Linked DNA regions of Homo sapiens: region 2 is linked to region 1. Evidence: fine-mapped expression QTL. A gene starts in region 1. The other region holds a variant in brackets. All regions are shown on one strand. Distances are from middle to middle.

Evidence for each region. PIP is the estimated chance that this variant, and not a neighbour inherited with it, causes the effect.
Region 2: its variant is fine-mapped to the expression of C19orf18 in putamen (GTEx, PIP 0.99).

What each region holds. Positions count from the first base shown.
Region 1 is chr19:57,970,400-57,978,767 of GRCh38, forward strand. C19orf18 (chromosome 19 open reading frame 18) reads right to left here and starts at 4,135. Exons shown (of 6, transcript NM_152474.5): 1 at 3,913-4,135; 2 at 3,700-3,804; 3 at 2,064-2,105. The coding sequence starts at 4,033. ZNF606 (zinc finger protein 606) reads right to left here. Exons shown (of 7, transcript NM_001348022.3): 7 at 6,677-8,368. The coding sequence ends at 7,902.
Region 2 is chr19:58,017,256-58,025,623 of GRCh38, forward strand. It overlaps the pseudogene VN2R19P. Among named protein-coding and RNA genes, the nearest start is that of ZSCAN1, 13 kb to the right of the region's middle. The variant T/C (reference allele first, on the strand shown) is at 4,133.

The DNA.
Region 1 (8,368 bases):
ATAACTTCTCCTCTTTGGAAATGCTGTCCCCATTAGTTTGGAGTCAGTGTCTCGTGGGTGGACATCCTCAAGCTTTGTGCTCAAATAAACTCTGTACTTAATCATATTTGTCGAACTTCATTATTTAAGCTTGGCAGTTTCAATGCACAATTCTTACTATGAGTAAGGTAGACATCTTTCCATATAATTTTTTTTTTTTTGTTACAGAGTCTCGCTCTGTTGCCAGGCTGGAGTGCAGTGGTGCGATCTCTGCTCACTTCAACCTCAGCCTCCCGGGTTCTCCTACCTCAGCCTCCCGAGTAGCTGGCCTCCACCATGCCCAGCTAATTTTTGTATTTTTAGTAGAGATGGGGTTTCACCATGTTGTCCAGGCTGGTCTCAAACTCCTGACCTCAGGTGATCTACCCACCTCAGCCCCCCAAAGTGTTGGGATTACAGGCATGAGCCTGTACTGCACCCGGACCATCAACTTTATTAGATAAACAATTTTGTCCCGTCTCTATCCTACCTACAACTGGGACCTGAAGCTCAGGGGTGGCAGAGGTCTCAGTGACCTTCTAGCACCAGCACACAAAACGAGCTAGTGTCAAAAGAAGGACCAGTGTGCAGGCCTTTGATACCCCAGCCAGGACTCAAGCTCTGTGCTTTGGTGATGGTGGTGTCAATGGGCAGGTGAAACAGTCATAGCTGAGCTTTAGGAAGATTGATAATGTGTTTGGCGTGGATGGATGTATTCATCACGTTTTTTATTTTCTGTATTTCCTGATACTTTGACATCTTGGGGCCTTAACTGACCCTTGAAGAGACTGCCCTCCCAGGTCCAGCCAATTCCTGAAGATAGTAAACCCTGGCCTGCAAGTGCACCTTTCATGTGCAAGCCGACACACCCAAAGCCTACACCCCAACAATCTCTATGGAGCCCTCATGCTCCAGGCCACCATCCCCTGCCCCCAACCACCCCAGGGCCAGGTCCCAGACAACCAGGGACATACCCCATGCCCCACAGCCACCAAATCACTCAAGCTGATCCCAAGCCCGCCTTCCCTACCTGCCTTCCTGTAAAAACCAGAATAAAGTTGTTTTTTTTAAAAAAGACAGCCTCGCTCTGTTGCCCAGGCTAGAGTGCAGCGACCCAATCTCAGCTCACTGCAACCTCCACCTCCCAGGTTCATGCGATTCTCCCGCCTCAGCCTCCCAAATAGCTGGGATTACAGGTGCCCACCACCACTCCTGGCTAATTTTTGTATTTTTAGTAGAGATGGGGTTTCACCATGTTAGCCAAGCTGGTCTCGAACTCGTGACCTCAAGTGATTCATCCACCTCGGCCTTCCTAAGTGCTGGGATTACAGGGATGAGCCACCGCACCCGGCCCAGAATAAAGGCTTTTGCTCACACTTTCCTGGCTCCCTTTGCCTTCTGATAGACCCTGGTGCTTCCTTGTGTGGACTCCTGCTTCTAGGGACCCGTGAGTATCAGGCTTCTTCCTTCATGACAGTCATTTCTGTGTCTGCATGTCTCACTCAGCATATGTGATTAAATAAAATGCTGGCTACATGTGAAAGCAGTGGAGATGGGTAGGTGGTGGGGGAGCTGACTCAGAAGCCGCCCTGTTGCAGGCACTTAGCAAATGTGCAGAGGAGAAGGAAGGATGCTCTGGGGCGGGAGCAGCAGCAGGACACAAGGTGCCTTCTGCTTTGGAGGACTCTGAAGCGAGAGGTGTTGAGGAGGTTCCAGGACAAGCCACAGTGGGGAGAGTTGCTAGAAAGGCTGCTGACAGGGCCGCTGTGTGTGCCCATGCATTTTGTGTGTTCCACAAAGAGATCTCAGACACAGCCTGTGCTCTACTCACTACAACATCAGCCCGTGGAGTTGAGCCACCTTCTCACCTGCCCCAAGCGGTGTCACTGCGCATCCCCCTCCAGAGGGGGCACCTTGTCTAACACACATGAAGGCACCACGTGTGCAGGCTCCTTGGTGACCAGCCAGCACCCTCTGGAGCCACACATCACGACAGCTTCAGGAATGTTGCGGGTCCACCCGCCCTCCCAGATCCCTTGGCTTACCTTTATTCCTCAGGAATTTCATGGGGTTCGTAGGGGATGCAGCTAAAAGGCCATCAAAGGGGATCAAAAAGAAGAGACTTTAAGATGGTTTAAGATGAACTTGGGAAAACAAGGAAATAACTTAGCATTAGAGAAGGACGCCGAACACACAGCTTCCAAATATCTAAGATGGGATGTGTTAATACATTCCTCCCAATGCCTGGCAGCAATGTGTGGGTTAATTTGCAGAAGCCTGGTGAGCCTGCTGTTCTTTTTGCACCTGGTGCTTCCTGTCATGAAGAATGACCTTTAGGAACAGGATACTTTTGGTTTCTGGTCTCCTTTTGCAGTCATACAAGTTGGGAAATCTCTGCCCAAATTAAGGACCTGGAGAGACTTAGAGTTGAAGGGGCTACGACCTCATTAGAAGGTCAGCAAGGGTTGGGCACAGTGGCTCATGCCTGTAATCCCAGCGAGGAAGGCAGATCACGAGGTCAGGAGTTCGAGACCAGCCTGACCAACATGGTGAAACCCCGTCTCTACTGAAAATACAAAAATTAGCTGGGCATGGTGGCACGCGCCTGTAGTCCCAGCTACTCAGGAGGCTGAGGCAGGAGAATTGCTTGAACCCGGCGGTGGAGGTTGTGGTGAGCCGAGATTGCGCCACTGCACTCCAGCTGGGTGACAGAGTGAGACTCCGTCTCAAAAAAAAAAAAAAAAAAAAAAAAAAAAAAAAAAAAAAAAGGATCAGAGAGCCAGGCAGAGAGGCCAGGGAACCAACAATAGTGTCCTTTCCTCGGACACAAATTACATGCAAATGTATCACACAGACAGCATTTCCCTTGCATGGAATGGAGATTATTTACAAGCATCATATATCTCCACAAAGGGTTGCTGAGCTTCAAAGATTGTCGGGGTTGGTTTTGCTGTTATAAGATAAACAAACATCCTCTAGTACTCAAATTAGAAGGGAACCATAGAAAATGCTTATAAAGAATTCTCGGCTGGGCATGGTGGCTCATGCCTGTAATCCCAGCACTTTGAGAGGCCGAGGCGGGCGGATCATGAGGTCAGGAGATCAAGACCATCCTGGCTAACACAGTGAAACCCTGTCTCTACTAAAAATACAAAAAATTAGCTTGGCGTGGTGGCGGGTGCCTGTAGTCCCAGCTACTTGGGAGGCTGAGGCAGGAGAATGGTGTGAACCCAGGAGGTGGAGCTTGCAGTGAGCCGAGATCGCGCCACTGCACTCCAGCCTGGGCGACAGAGCAAGACTCTGTCTCAAAAAAAAAAAAAAGAAAAAAAAGAATTCTGTACACTCACAAACCTTCTGTGTCTAGACTTGCATGCTCTACTGCCAAATGTGCACCAAATTCAAGTCAGACAGGCATACCTGTGTAATCTGGATGGGATCAAGGTTTTTGTGTGCGCTTATTAAAGTGAAATGAAAAAGAGAAGAAAGTGGCAATCCCTAAAGAGAAAGCAGTTAACAGAGAGTGAAGAGCATAAGATCTAATTTCCAAGCAAATGTTTATCTAATTATACTCTATTTTATGGACCTTTCTACCAGCAAGCACACAGTACACATTCACATGGCAGATAAGAGGACTCCAGGCTACGATTCTCACTCCACTGAATGAGGAATTCAATGACTCACCCGTGGATCTCGAGGCAGCCCCTTGAATCCCAGGCAACTGGGTTTTATGAAAGAACACTTTGGGCTCTTTGGTGATGTTTCTGGGTGGTTGTGACCGTTTACTGCCTTGAAAAGAAAACTTTTTGCGGTGAAATGTAATTACCTTCTTTTTATCTCCCCTGAAACAGCTTTTCAATTCTCCCTGAGTCACATAAAACCAGTGGTTGAAGCTACCTGGTAAGCCTGTTATGTTTCCAGTGGGATGGAGTCCATCTGCATACGGCAAGCATAAATGAAGTTGGCATTCCATTAAAAACAAAAACAAAATGAGGAAACCACTCTGAACCTTGTCCATCACTCTCAAATTATCAGTATTTTATCCCGTAGATGAAAGGAAATACTTAGCTACAGTCCAGCATCTGTCCTCTATTTATCTGAGGAATCAAGAAGTTCTACTCCCTTCAGAATGTTTGGGCAGTGACTTGGAGCCACCAGTGTGAGGTCAGTCCTTGCTGTGATAATGGAGTTCCTTCATGGAACCATGCTGACCAATGGGGAGACTACAGTGTAAGAGGGCAGTGCTTGGAGGTGCAGGCATGATGAGACCAGGTCCCTGCCTGCAGTGTGCAGATTAGTGAGGAGGCAGAAAGAAATCAATTACAGTCAGCCCTCCGCATGCATAGTTCCCCATCCGTGATTTCCAACAACCTCACTTGGAAAATGTTCAGGAAAAAAGGAATGGGCACGGTGGCTCACGCCTATGATCCCAACACTTTAGGAGGTCAAGGTGGGCAGATCGCTTGAGGCCAGGAGTTCAAGACCAGCCTGGCCAACACAGTGAAAGCCCATCTCTACTAAAAATACAAAAATTTGCTGGGCGTGGTGGTGCACACCTGTAGTTCAAGCTACTTGGGAGGCTGAGGCATGAGAATCACTTGAACCCAGGAGGTGGAGGTTGCAGTGAGCTGAGATCATGCCACTGCACTCCAGCCTGGGCGACAGAGCAAGACTCTGTCTCAAAAAAATAAAACAACAAACACAAAAACAAAAACTAGCCAGGCATGGTGGCGTGTACCTGTAGTCCCAGATACTCGGGAGGCTGAGGCAGGAAGATCACTTGAGCCCAGAAGGCAGAGGTAGCAGTGAGCCAAAATCGTACCACTGCACAAAGAAAGAAAGAAAAGAAAGTGGAAGGAAAGCAGTCACCCTTAGAAGGGAGGCAATGTGCACAGGGGAGACCCACAGCAGGAAGGTAAAGGGGGACTCCTGATGACTGAAAGTGGGCCCTAGGCTTCAGAGATGGGAGGAATAGAAGACGGGCTCAAAAAAGGCAATGAACTATGTCATGTATGAGGGAGACAGAGGGGACCTGGGAGTGCTGGATGTTAGGGACCACTGAAATCAATACTGTCCAGGCTGTGCATGATAGGTGAGAGGAAGGGAATACTTCCAGGAAGAAGCAGAAGTCTGGGACTTTCTTTTGACTCGTGATGTGACCTGACCAACAGGAGGCCCTTTTTTTTTTTTTTTTTTTTTTTTGAGATGGAGTCTTGCCCTGTCACCCACACTGGAGTGCAGTGGCACAATCTTGGCTCACTGCAACCTCCACCTCCTGGGTTCAAACGATTCTCCTGCCTCAGCCTCTGGAACCGCTGGGATTACAGGCATCTGCCACCACACCCAGCTAATTTTTGTATTTTTAGTAGAGATGGGCTTTCACCATGTTGGCGGCCAGGCCAGTCTCGAACTCCTGATCTCATGATTCACCCACCTTGGCCTCCCAAAGTGCTGGGGTGACAGGAGTGAGCCACTGTGCCCTGCCAGGAGGCCCTTTAAGACATTAAAAAAACTCTTATCTGTTTAAACAGAGATGGGATCTTGCTACGTTGCAAGGCTGGCCTTGAACTCCTCAGCTCAAGCAATCCTCCTGTCCCTCCCAAAATGCTGGCATGAGCCTCGGTGCCCGGCCTAGAAATTTTTTCAAGATAATAATCTTAGTAATAAGGTTATAAGTTACCAGGATGCTTGTGGTATATTGCATATGACTTATGAAATCCTTTGGAATCTCTAAATCAGATAATTTGGATTCACTCTGGCTATTAGAATACAATATCCACATCCTACTGGTAGTATGATTCTGGATATATTATGCTGCTTTCTCCAAGATGAGATAATACTGCTAACTTCATTCTCTCCAAGGGCCTTTGCACAAATCATGTAAAAAAAAAATCCATCAATAACTAACTTGCCCCTGCCACATTTATCAGGTGACCACTAATGTGTCAGGCCTTGAAAGGACTACAATCAAATGTTACACACCTAAGTGAGCCCAAGCTAGAAGAGTCAGAAGGTGAAAATAACAGCCTCCCAATGACATCACTAGGCCATCATTTCTCAACCACTGGGAAGCCATGGGCCCTTTAAAAATTAGATGAGCTTTATGAGCCCAAGTTCCACTCAATACCCTTGAAGCCTATCCAGGAAGGATCCTTGGCCCCCAGTTTTAGAAATACTTATGAACTGGAGAGAAGCCACCCAAGTCTTCTGATCCATCTTTCCCCTTTTCCCCTGTGAACACTGAGACTTCATTACTCTAGGTGGACTGGCTAGCTCTCTTCCCTTCTGAATCCTGCTCCTTCAAGTAAGCCTTTCATCTGCAGAAGATTTCAAAAAAATAAAAGACCGAATTCAAGGTAAACCTTGGGTAATGGTGCTCTGAAGTGCAGTGGTGTCTAGTTATGGAAAGGAACAAACACCCCTGCCCTCTGCTCTGTAAGTGGCATTCTAAACCCACCAAGGGACTTGCCCAGTCCTCCAGCAAGTCCTCCAGGCCCTGCTGCCCTGTTATCCTTGGGGTTGCAGGCAGCAAAGTTCTAGGGAACTCAGGTCCCAGAAAATGCAGTGATTCTGAATGTCCAACACAGACTTCATATTCCAAAGGGATACTAGTTCTCATGTTACTATAAATCCTTCGAGACAGAGAAACCAGGTAACTTTATTTCTCATTGTTTAGGATTTTCTTTTTATTATCAAATCTCTGCTATAGAAACACTGAAGAAAATGGGAAAAAAAATCACTGGAGAGGCAGCATAAAATGGTGGCTGAAAACAAGAACTCTGGAGCCAATCTCAGCTCTACTCCCTTACTAGTTGTGCCCCTTAGGTAGGATCCTTCAACATCTCTGCTTCAGCTTAGCCATTTGTAAAACTGGGGTAACAGTACCTATCTCAGAGTAAAGGGGACTAAACAAGTTAACACTTGGAAAGCATTTAAAAGAAAGCCCAGCACATAAGTGTTATATGTATTTGTAAAACTTTTTAAAAATCTCAACTGGGTTAACTTTTCCATGGATCTTTCAGGTCCTTACCCATATACATTTTTTTAGATGTGTTACAGTAAGTATGTATATACAATTCTGTATCCTTTTTATTCCTTCATGTTATGTATACTGATGCAGTGTCCATAATTATAATTTATAGTGATTGCCTAAAACAAATTACAAACTAATTGCCCAACAATGCAGTGATGAGTAACAATGGACGCTGACACACTGGGCTAAGGATCACTTTCTGTCCAGCAACATCAGTCTCACACTCCTAGGCAATAACTTTTCTACCGTTAGTCATCTCATTCATTAATTTTCTCTAAGGAGGTTAATCAACAGTAAATACCCCATTCAATACTATTATTTTTCTTACATTCAGATTTAGCACTTCATATTCTACTCCTGGGCACCCAGACCCTCCCCTTATAACAACAAAATCTGTATTTCTACAATTATGCACAAAATGTTATTGTAGAGTTTTCCATCCAGTACTCCAGCTTGATGCAAAACAGTGTATTTCCAGTCAAAAACTTTTCTCTGCATAAGGTTTTTCCCTTAGCAATTCACACCAATCTACAATTGGTGAGAGCTCTTGCTAAAAGATGCCTCATTCCCCACAGTCATGGTCCTCAAGTATGAATTACTGGTAGACCATAAGGGGAGTTTAGAGTTTCCTTCATTGTTAATTATCTGATTTTGAGTAAGGGCTAAATAACTGCTGAAAGCTTTTCCCTATTCTTTTCCTTCATGGGGTTTCTTCTAAGATGATATTTTCTAGTAAATAATGTGGGAGAAGTCTTACTGAACTCTTAATGAAAAATGTCCCCTCTTGATTATGTTTATAGGGTTTTCCTCAATGTGTTGTCAAATGTACAAGAAACGAAAAACTCGCATAAATTCAATTCAGTTTCTCTTCACTGTGATTTCTCTGGTGTTGAAGTAGGGCTGAGTGACCACTAAAGGCTTTTCCACATTCACTGCATATAAAGCGTTTCTCTCCACTATGCATTCTCTGATGAATAATAAGGGAAGAATTCTTACAAAATGCTTTTTCACAATGATTACATTTGTAGGGCTTTTCTCCAGTATGGTTTCTTAGGTGTACAATAAGGGATGAACTCTCATTAAATGCTTTCCCACATTCATTACACCTGTATGGTTTCTCTCCAGTATGAGTTCTCCGGTGTGCAATGAGGTGAGAACTACAGTTAAAGGATCTTTCACACTGATTACATTTATAGGGTTTCTCACCAGTGTGAATTCTCCGATGAGCAACAAGGTGACAGCTCTGACTGAAGGATTTTCCACATTTATTGCATTCATAGGGTTTTTCTCCAGTATGAGTCCTTTGATGTCTAACAAGGT
Region 2 (8,368 bases), 47 kb after region 1:
CAACATCAAATTCTGTAATTAAATCTCCGTTGGCATCAAACATGATCTCTGTCCCATCAGGGGTCTTGAAATGCACGTTCTTGAGAGGACGAAGCAGCTGGGGAAGGATGGATGACACTGTAGATGGGCAGGGCCAGTCCCAGGGCCTGTGCAAAATGCATCAGGTCCTCAGCCACCGTGGTGAGCAGGGGCTGCCTCAGGCAGGGCCAACGTATCCATGAGGCACGGGAGACCCAGGGCTGTGATATTTGCAGGGTCCCATGAAAATGTTCTAATGTTAACTGCTTGTAAAAGCAAAGAAAAAAATTAAAAAGTAATTAATGGGCCATGCACGGTGGCTCAAGCCTGTGGTCCCAGCACTTTGGGAGGCCGAGGCAGGCAGATCACGAGGTCAGGAGCTCAAGACCAGCCTGACCAATATGGTGAAATGCCGTCCCTACCAAAAATACAAAAATTAGCCAGGCGTGGTGGCTCACGCCTGTAATCCCAGCCACTCAGGAAGCTGAGGCAGAAGAGTCACTTGAACCCGGGAGACGGAGGTTGCAGTGAGCCAAGATCATGCCACTACGCTCCAGCCTGGGCGACAGAGCAAGACTCTGTCTCAAAAAAAAGTAATAATGAACATATAATAATGAGTCCAACCCAGGATATATTCATCTTTAGACCAAGGCAATGGTAAAATTGAATTAAGAATTTTTTTTTCCACGGAGGAAGGAACGCACAAAAGCCACAGTGTGGCCCCTGCTCCAGGGATTCCGTCTGAGCAAACACTTCCTCCTTGGCCTTCCCATCACACTCCAAGTGGAGTAAAATCCTGGCGGGACCTACACAGGTCAGTCCCTGAACACCTAGACATCCTGATCCCTCAGTCACAAACCTAGCATGGACTTAAGACCCCTCATCCTGGCCAGGCATGGTAGCTTATGCCTGTGATCCCAACACTTACCCCAAAGTGGACAGATCGCTTGAGCCCAGAAGTTTGAGACCAGCCTGGGCATCATGGTGAAAATACAAAAATTAGCTGGGCGTGGTGGTGCATGCTTGTAGTCCCAGCTACTCGGGAGGCTGAAGGATCGCTTGAGCCCAGGAGGTTGAGACTGCAGTGAGCTGTGAATGCATCACTGTATTCCAGCTTGAACAACAAAGCAAGGCACTGTCTTAACACAAAACAAAACAAAAAATTCCTCAGCCCGGCACGGTGGCTCATGCCTGTAATCCTAGCACTTTGGGAGGCCAAGGTGGGCAAATCATCTGAGGTCAGGAATTCAAAACCAGCCTGACCAACATGGTGAAACCCCATCTCTACTAAAAATACAAAATTAGCCAGGCGTGATGGCACATGCCTATAATCCCAGCTACTCAGAAGGCTGAGGCAGAAGAATTGCTTGAACCCAGGAGGCAGAGGTTGCAGTTAGCTGAGATCACACCATTGCACTCCAGCCTGGACAGAGCGAAACTCCGTCTCAAAAAAAAAAAAATCTTCGTCCAGTGCTCCTGCTAAGATGTGGCTTAGGGCTGTGAATACAAGATATCCTCACTGAGGAGCACTGCCCCTGTCCTCCCCACCAGGAGACCAAGTGAGTTTCCTGCTGTCTCCCCTTCCCTGAATCATCTACTCCACAGTTTGTTTTTGAGACAAGGTCTTACTCTGTTGCCCAGGCTGGAGTGCAGTGGCACCATCATGGCTTGCTGTAGCTTCAACCTCCTGGGCTCAAGCGATCCTCACACCTGAGCCTTCCAAGTAGTTGTGACTAGAGGCGTGCACCATCACGACTTTTTTTTTTTTAAAGATAGTCTCGCTCTGTCACCCAGGCTGGAGTGCAGTGGTGTAATCTCGGCTCACTGCAAGCTCTGCCCTCCCAGGTTGAAGGAATTCTCCTACCTCAGCCTCCTGAGTAGCTGGGACTACAGGCGCCCACCATCACGCCTGGCTAATTTTTTGTATTTTTAGCAGAGATGGGGTTTCACTGTGTTAGCCAGGATGGTCTCGAGATCTCCTGACCTCGTAATCCACCTGCCTCTGCCTCCCAAAATGTGGGGGTTACAGGCGTGAGCCACTGTGCCCAGCCCATGCTTGGCTGATTTAAAAATTTTTTTGTAGATTCAGTGTCTTACTGTGTTTCCCTGGCTGATCTTGAACTCCTGGGCTCGAATGATCCTCCCACATTGGTCTCCCAAAGTACTGGGACTACAGGCGTGAGCCACCATGCTCAGCCCCACTCCACACGTTCGCCTCTCACCAGCCAGGGCTGGAAGTCCCAGGCATCGGCACACCCCTGGTCCCCATGCTTGCAGCCTGCCAGGGCCTGGGCGATGGCATAGACCACTGTGTAGGCGATGTGTACTTTGCTTTCCTTCTGGAAAGGGTAGTGCTCAACCCTCAGACTCTCATTTCCTGAGCAGAACTGGACTCCTGCAGCCGCTGTGCTTTTCCCTGCTGGCCCCCAGCTGCTATGGGGCTATGTGCACTTGAAGGTGACCTCCCAGAATCTCCATATGAACATGTCTTCTGGGGTCCTGGCAAGGCGCAGGGAAGTCGGGGGGCTGGCTGTTGCAAAGCAGGAGGCTGAATGAGCCCTGCAGAACCCAGAAGGCACTGGCACAGTCAGGACCAGCGCCATGTGCAGAGTGTCCCAGCTGACACAGACCTGGCCCAGGATGCCTCGGCCTGCCAGGCACTGCAGGATGAGTCTGAAGTGCTAGCTGTTAAGGAAAACCAGGATGATGGTGGCCGTACAGTTCTCCATCAGCCAGATGATGTTTTTCATCTTCAGGGACTCCCGGGTGGGGATGCAGAGTTGGAATTCAATGCAGACCCCAGCCTGGCCCAGCTCCTGGACGACCAGAGACCTGCCCTGCAGCTCAAAGTCGTCCCCCTGCGCCAGGACGCTCACCCAAGACCATCGGAAGTGAAGCATCAGCTGCACCACTGCATGGGTGGTCGTGAGGTGACTGAGCAGGGTCTGAAAGAAGGATGGGAACTGGGTCCTGTCGCTGAGGCTGGCCAGTGTGGAGGAGGGGCTGACCTGTGCAGGAAGAGGCCAGGGCAATGGGGAGGGGTGAGGAGCAGCTCAGGCACCTGCTGACCACCAGGTTCAAAAGAAAGCCAGGTTGACCCACACGTCCCTGGTGGCCCTGGGTGTGTCCCCCAATTTTGTCACTGAAAGCTCACACCTATAATCACAGCACTGAGAGGCCAAGGCGGGCAGATCACTTGAGGTCAGGAGTTCAAGACCAGCCTGGCCAACAACATAGTGAAACCCCATCTCTACTAAAAATACAAAAATTAGCCAGGCATGATGGTGGGTGCCTGTAATCCCAGCTACTTGGTAGGCTGAGGCAGGAGAATCGCTTGAACCCTGGAGGCCGAGGTTGCAGCGAGCCGAAATCGCACCACTGCACCCTAGCCTGGGTGACAGAATGAGACTCCGTCTCAAAAAAAAAAAAAAATTCCCACATAAGTCTGGGCATGGTGGCTCACGTACATCCCAGGGCTTTGGGAGGCCAAGGTGGGAGGACTGCTAGAGCCCAGGAGGTCGAGACTAGCTTGGGCAACACAGTATGACCCCCTACTCTAAAGAGACACACACAGAAAGAGAGACACACACACAGAGAGAGAGAGAGAGAGACAGACACAGAGACACACAGAGGAAGAGACAGACAGAGACAGACAGAGACAGAGACAGAGAGACAGAGTCAGACAGAGAAACAGGAGGGAAGGCAGGCAGGAAGGGAAGAAGGGAGGGAGGGAGGGAGAGGAGGGAGGGAGGGAGGGAGGGATGGAGGAGGGGAGAGAGAGCGAGCCAAGCAGGCACAGAAAAAAAAAAAAAGGAGAAAAGGAAAGGAAGAAAGAAAAAGGCCAGATGTGGTGGCTCACACCTGTAATCCCAGCACCTTGGGAGGCAGAAGTGGGCAGATCACTTGAGGCCAGGCTGGTCTCAAACTCCTGACCTCACGTGATCGGCCTGCCTCAGCCTCCCAGAGTGCTGGGATTACAGTTGTAAGCCGCAGCACCCAGCCCCAAGGAATAATTGAACTTAATGTTCATTCCTCTCGTTTTGCCCACTTCAAACTTACGTTTCTGCTCCTTTGCCAAGCTGGGTTTTTGTTTGTTTTTTTTGAGACAGGGTTT[T/C]ACTGTCACCCAGGCTAGAGTGCAGTGGCAGGAACACAGCTCACTACATCCTCCACCTACTGGGCTCAAGAGATCTTCCTGCCTCAGGGGACTACAGATGTGCACCACCCACCACCCCCAGTTAAAAAAAATTATTTTGTAGAGATGGGGTCTATGTTTCCCAGCCTGGTCTTAAAATTCCTGGGCTCACGTGATCCTCCTGCCTCAGCAGGCCTGGGGATCCGATTCTAGTTCCGGTTTGCACAGCGCCGACAACTCTGGGGCTACAGGCTGGAGCCACCGTGCGGGGCCTGGGATTCGGACTCTAGTTCCGGTTTCCACAGCGTGGACAACTCTGGGGTTACAGGCTGGAGCCACCATGCCGGGCCTGGGGTTCGGATTCTAGTTACGGTTCACACAGCGCGGACGGACAGTTCTTCACTGGCAGTGGCAATGACTCGGAACCTACTTGTGTTGTTTGGCCACGCTGTGATCTTTGTCAGTTTTTGCCTGCTTGTCGATTTGCCAATGAAGAGACTACTCTTCGTGCCCCGGAAGATAAAGTTCTATGAAATCGGGGTCAACGAGGTTTTGTGTCTGTGTTTGCTTCTGACCTGTGGCTGAGGCACAGGATGAAACTGCTCGGTCTCTGGGGTCTGTTGGATCAGAGACTTTAACACGCTCCTCGTGTGGGTGCAAAACATTCTCCTACCGCCAGAGGGTAGTAAGGAAATAGGCTATGCAAAGGTTATGGGGTCTGAACGGAACGGTGCTCTGGTCTGATTGGTTTACACAGACCCATAAGGCTGACGCAACAGGTAGAGCTAACAGATTTGAAAATAAAAAAACAGGATACCCAATTAAGTTTAAATTTCAGATAAATTCATCTAATATTTTAGCATAAGTATGTCTTGTATGTCCTGTGCAATATTTGGGACCAAATTCTACTAAAAAGGACTATTCATTGTTTATCTGAAAACCAAATTTCACTGGGGGTACTGTTTTATCTGGCAACCCTACAGGTACAGGAAAACAGCTTCTTGAGCTGCAGTCAAGAAATGCAGTTGCAGCTGCACGCAGTGGCTCATGCCTGTAAACCCAACACTGGGAGGCTGAGGTGGATCACAAGCCCAGGAGTTGCAGGCCAGCCTGGGCAACACAGGGAGAGTTTTGTTTTGTTTTGTTTTGTTTTGTTTTAAAAAAGGCCAGGCGCAGTGTCTCACGCCTGTAATTCCAGCACTTTGGGAGGCTGAGGCGGGTGGATCACCTGAGGTCAGGAGTTTGAGACCAGACTGGGCAACATAGTGAAACCCCATCTCTACTAAAAATACAAAAATTAGCCGGTCATGGCGGCGGGCACCTGTGGTCCCAGCTACTTGGGAGGCTGAGACAGGAGAATTGCTTGAACCCAGGGGGCAGAGGTTGCAGTGAGCCGAGATCGCACCACCGCACTCCAGCCTGGGCGACAAGAGTCAGACTTCGTCTCAAAAAAATTCAAAAAGGAAAAAAAAAATTGAGTCTCTAATCCTTTAAATGTGCTTGAATTAAAAGGAAAGAAAAGAAAGTCTACATATAGAAACTTCTAGTTCAGAAGCATTTTATGTAAGAATCCAAGTGGGAAGTAATCAAGGTGAATTCTTGGAAAAAAATCAGCCTGGCTTGATACTTTGGGGTTAAAAGCACCTAGAATAGCTATGCGGTTATTTGCAGAGGTTCTATAGAAATCAACTCTCCTTTTTATCAGGATAGGACTGGACTAAATTGATCGTACGATCAAGCCCATACCTGAAGTGTCACACCTCAGAATAAACTCCCCAATACATGACAACCCACCCTGAAGGAGTAAGGGGTGAAGGGGTGAGCTTTCTTTGTGGCCCCAACATTCACACCGCCCCAGGAAAACCCTTCCAACCTGTTCTGTGATTTACAGGGCCCCCTGCTTCACAGGTAGGAAGGCAGGCCTCTCCCCCAGCAGGCCAGCAAACTTTGCAAATTTAAGGCGTTCAAGGGCAGAGGAATCCTGTAAACCCAAATTTACAGGTTTCTCAGTGGAACATGAATCTATTAAATTGGACTCGTCATACAATGCTGGTGGGAATGTAAAATGGTGCGCTGCTTTGGAAAACACTCCAGCAGCTCCTCAGATAGTTAATCATAGCATGAACATTTGGCCCAGAAATTCTACCCATACAACCAAGAGAATTGAAAACACACTGAACATACACACAAAAACGGATACATAAATGTTCATAGCAGCCCTATTCACAGTAGGCCCAAAATGGAAACAGTTCAAATATACATCAACTAATAAATGGATACACACGACATGCTCTATTCATACAACGGATTTTTAAGACAGGGTCTTGCACTGTTGCCCAAGCTGGATTATAGTGGTACGATTATAGCTCACTGCACCCTTGACCCACCCCCCCCGCCCCCCGACTCAAGTGATTCTCCTGCCTCAGCCTTCTGAGTACCCAGGACTACAGCTGCATGCCACTAATTTTTTTTTTTTTTTCCTGTAGAAATGGAGTCTCCCTATGTTGCCCAGGCTGGTCTTGACCTCTTGACATCAAGCAATCCTCCCACCTTGGCCTCCCACAGGGCCACTATACCCAGCCTATGATGGAAAATTAATCAATAGAAGGGAACGACGCTCTGACACAGGCTGCAACGTGGATGAACCTTGAAAATATATTTAGTGAGAAAAGCCAGTCACAAAGGACCACACAGCGTATGATTCCGTTTATAGGAAGTATCCAGAAAAAGCAAATCTGTACAGACAAAACATACATTAGTGGTTGCCGGCAGGTGGAGCTGATGGAAACTGCTGGCTAAAGGGGTTGGGGTTTCCTTGTGGGGTGATGAAAATGTTCTCAAATTGGCTGTGGGGATGGCTACACAACTCGAACATACCAAAAGCCATGAGTGAGTTACGCGGTATGTGGATTATATCTCAGGCCGGAGGACTGCTTGAGCCTAGCAAATCGAGGCTGCAGTGAGCCGTGATCATGCCACTGCACTCCAGCCTGAGCGACAGAGACCCCATCACTAAAAAAATTAAAATGCCCCAGCACAGTGGCTCACACCTGTGATCCCAGCACTTCGTGGGGCCGAGGTGGGCAGATCACCTAAGGACAGAAGTTCCAGACCATCCTGGCCAACGTGGGGAAACACCGTCTCTACTAAAAATACAAAAATTAGCCGGGAGGTGGTAGGGGGCGCCTGGAAACCCAGCTACTCGGGAGGCTGAGGCAGGAGAATCGCTTGAACCCGGGAGGCGGAGATTGCAGTGAGCTGAGATCGTGCCACTGCACTCCACCCTGGGAAACAGCAAGACTCCATCTCAATACACCCACATACATACATAAAATAAACAGAAAAAAAAAGTTGCCTCTAGACATAGCTACTATTATGGGAATGACACCCGAGGGCCTGAGAGTCAGGAGGCCCCAGCGGGGCGGGGCCGTGTGGAGGCTGGCGGCACAAGCCCTATGGCCTGGACTCAAAACCCAGCTTCAGCGCCCCAGTGCTGGGTGAGCTGCAACGTGTCACTGCTAGTTCCCTCAATCTCAGTGTCCTGGTGAATGCAGCAGCGATCACCATTCTCTTACAGAGAGGTCATGGTGAGGGGGAGGATGGCGTCAGGCTGTAGGGCATTGGCGGGGAGCCAGGACCCTCCGTGGTAGGGCCTCAGCGTCACCCCCATTGTGGCCAATACCACAGCAAATATTAGGGGAGGGTACGGCTCTGAGTACTTACCTGGAGAAACCTGTAGAGTCCCAGGAGCCTGGCCATTGGCATAGACAACGCCAAGCATGTTTCTCCAAAGCAGCTCCGAGAGCGCTGGGCCCAGACGTGTAGCTGGGGATGGGCTCCTCCTGCCCGGTGAGAAAGCTCATGGTCTCATGGAGTGCTGCGTGCACGAAGTCCCCCTGTGTCCAGAATTGGTTCCTTCCAGTGGGTTCTTGGTGTAGCTGACTTCAACAATGAAGCTGCGGACCCTCACGGCGAGTGTTACTACAGTTCTTATCTGGAGTTGTTCATTCCTCCCGTTGGATTCGTGGTCTTGCTGGCTTCAGAAGTGAAGCCACAGACCTTCGCAGTTAGTATAACAGCTCATAAAGGTAGTATAGACCCACAGAAAGAGCATCAGCAGGATTTATCGCAAACAGCAAAACAACAAACTTCCACAAACTGGAAGGAAAGCCCAACAGACTGCCACCGCCGGCTCGGGTGGCCTGCTTTTATTCCCTT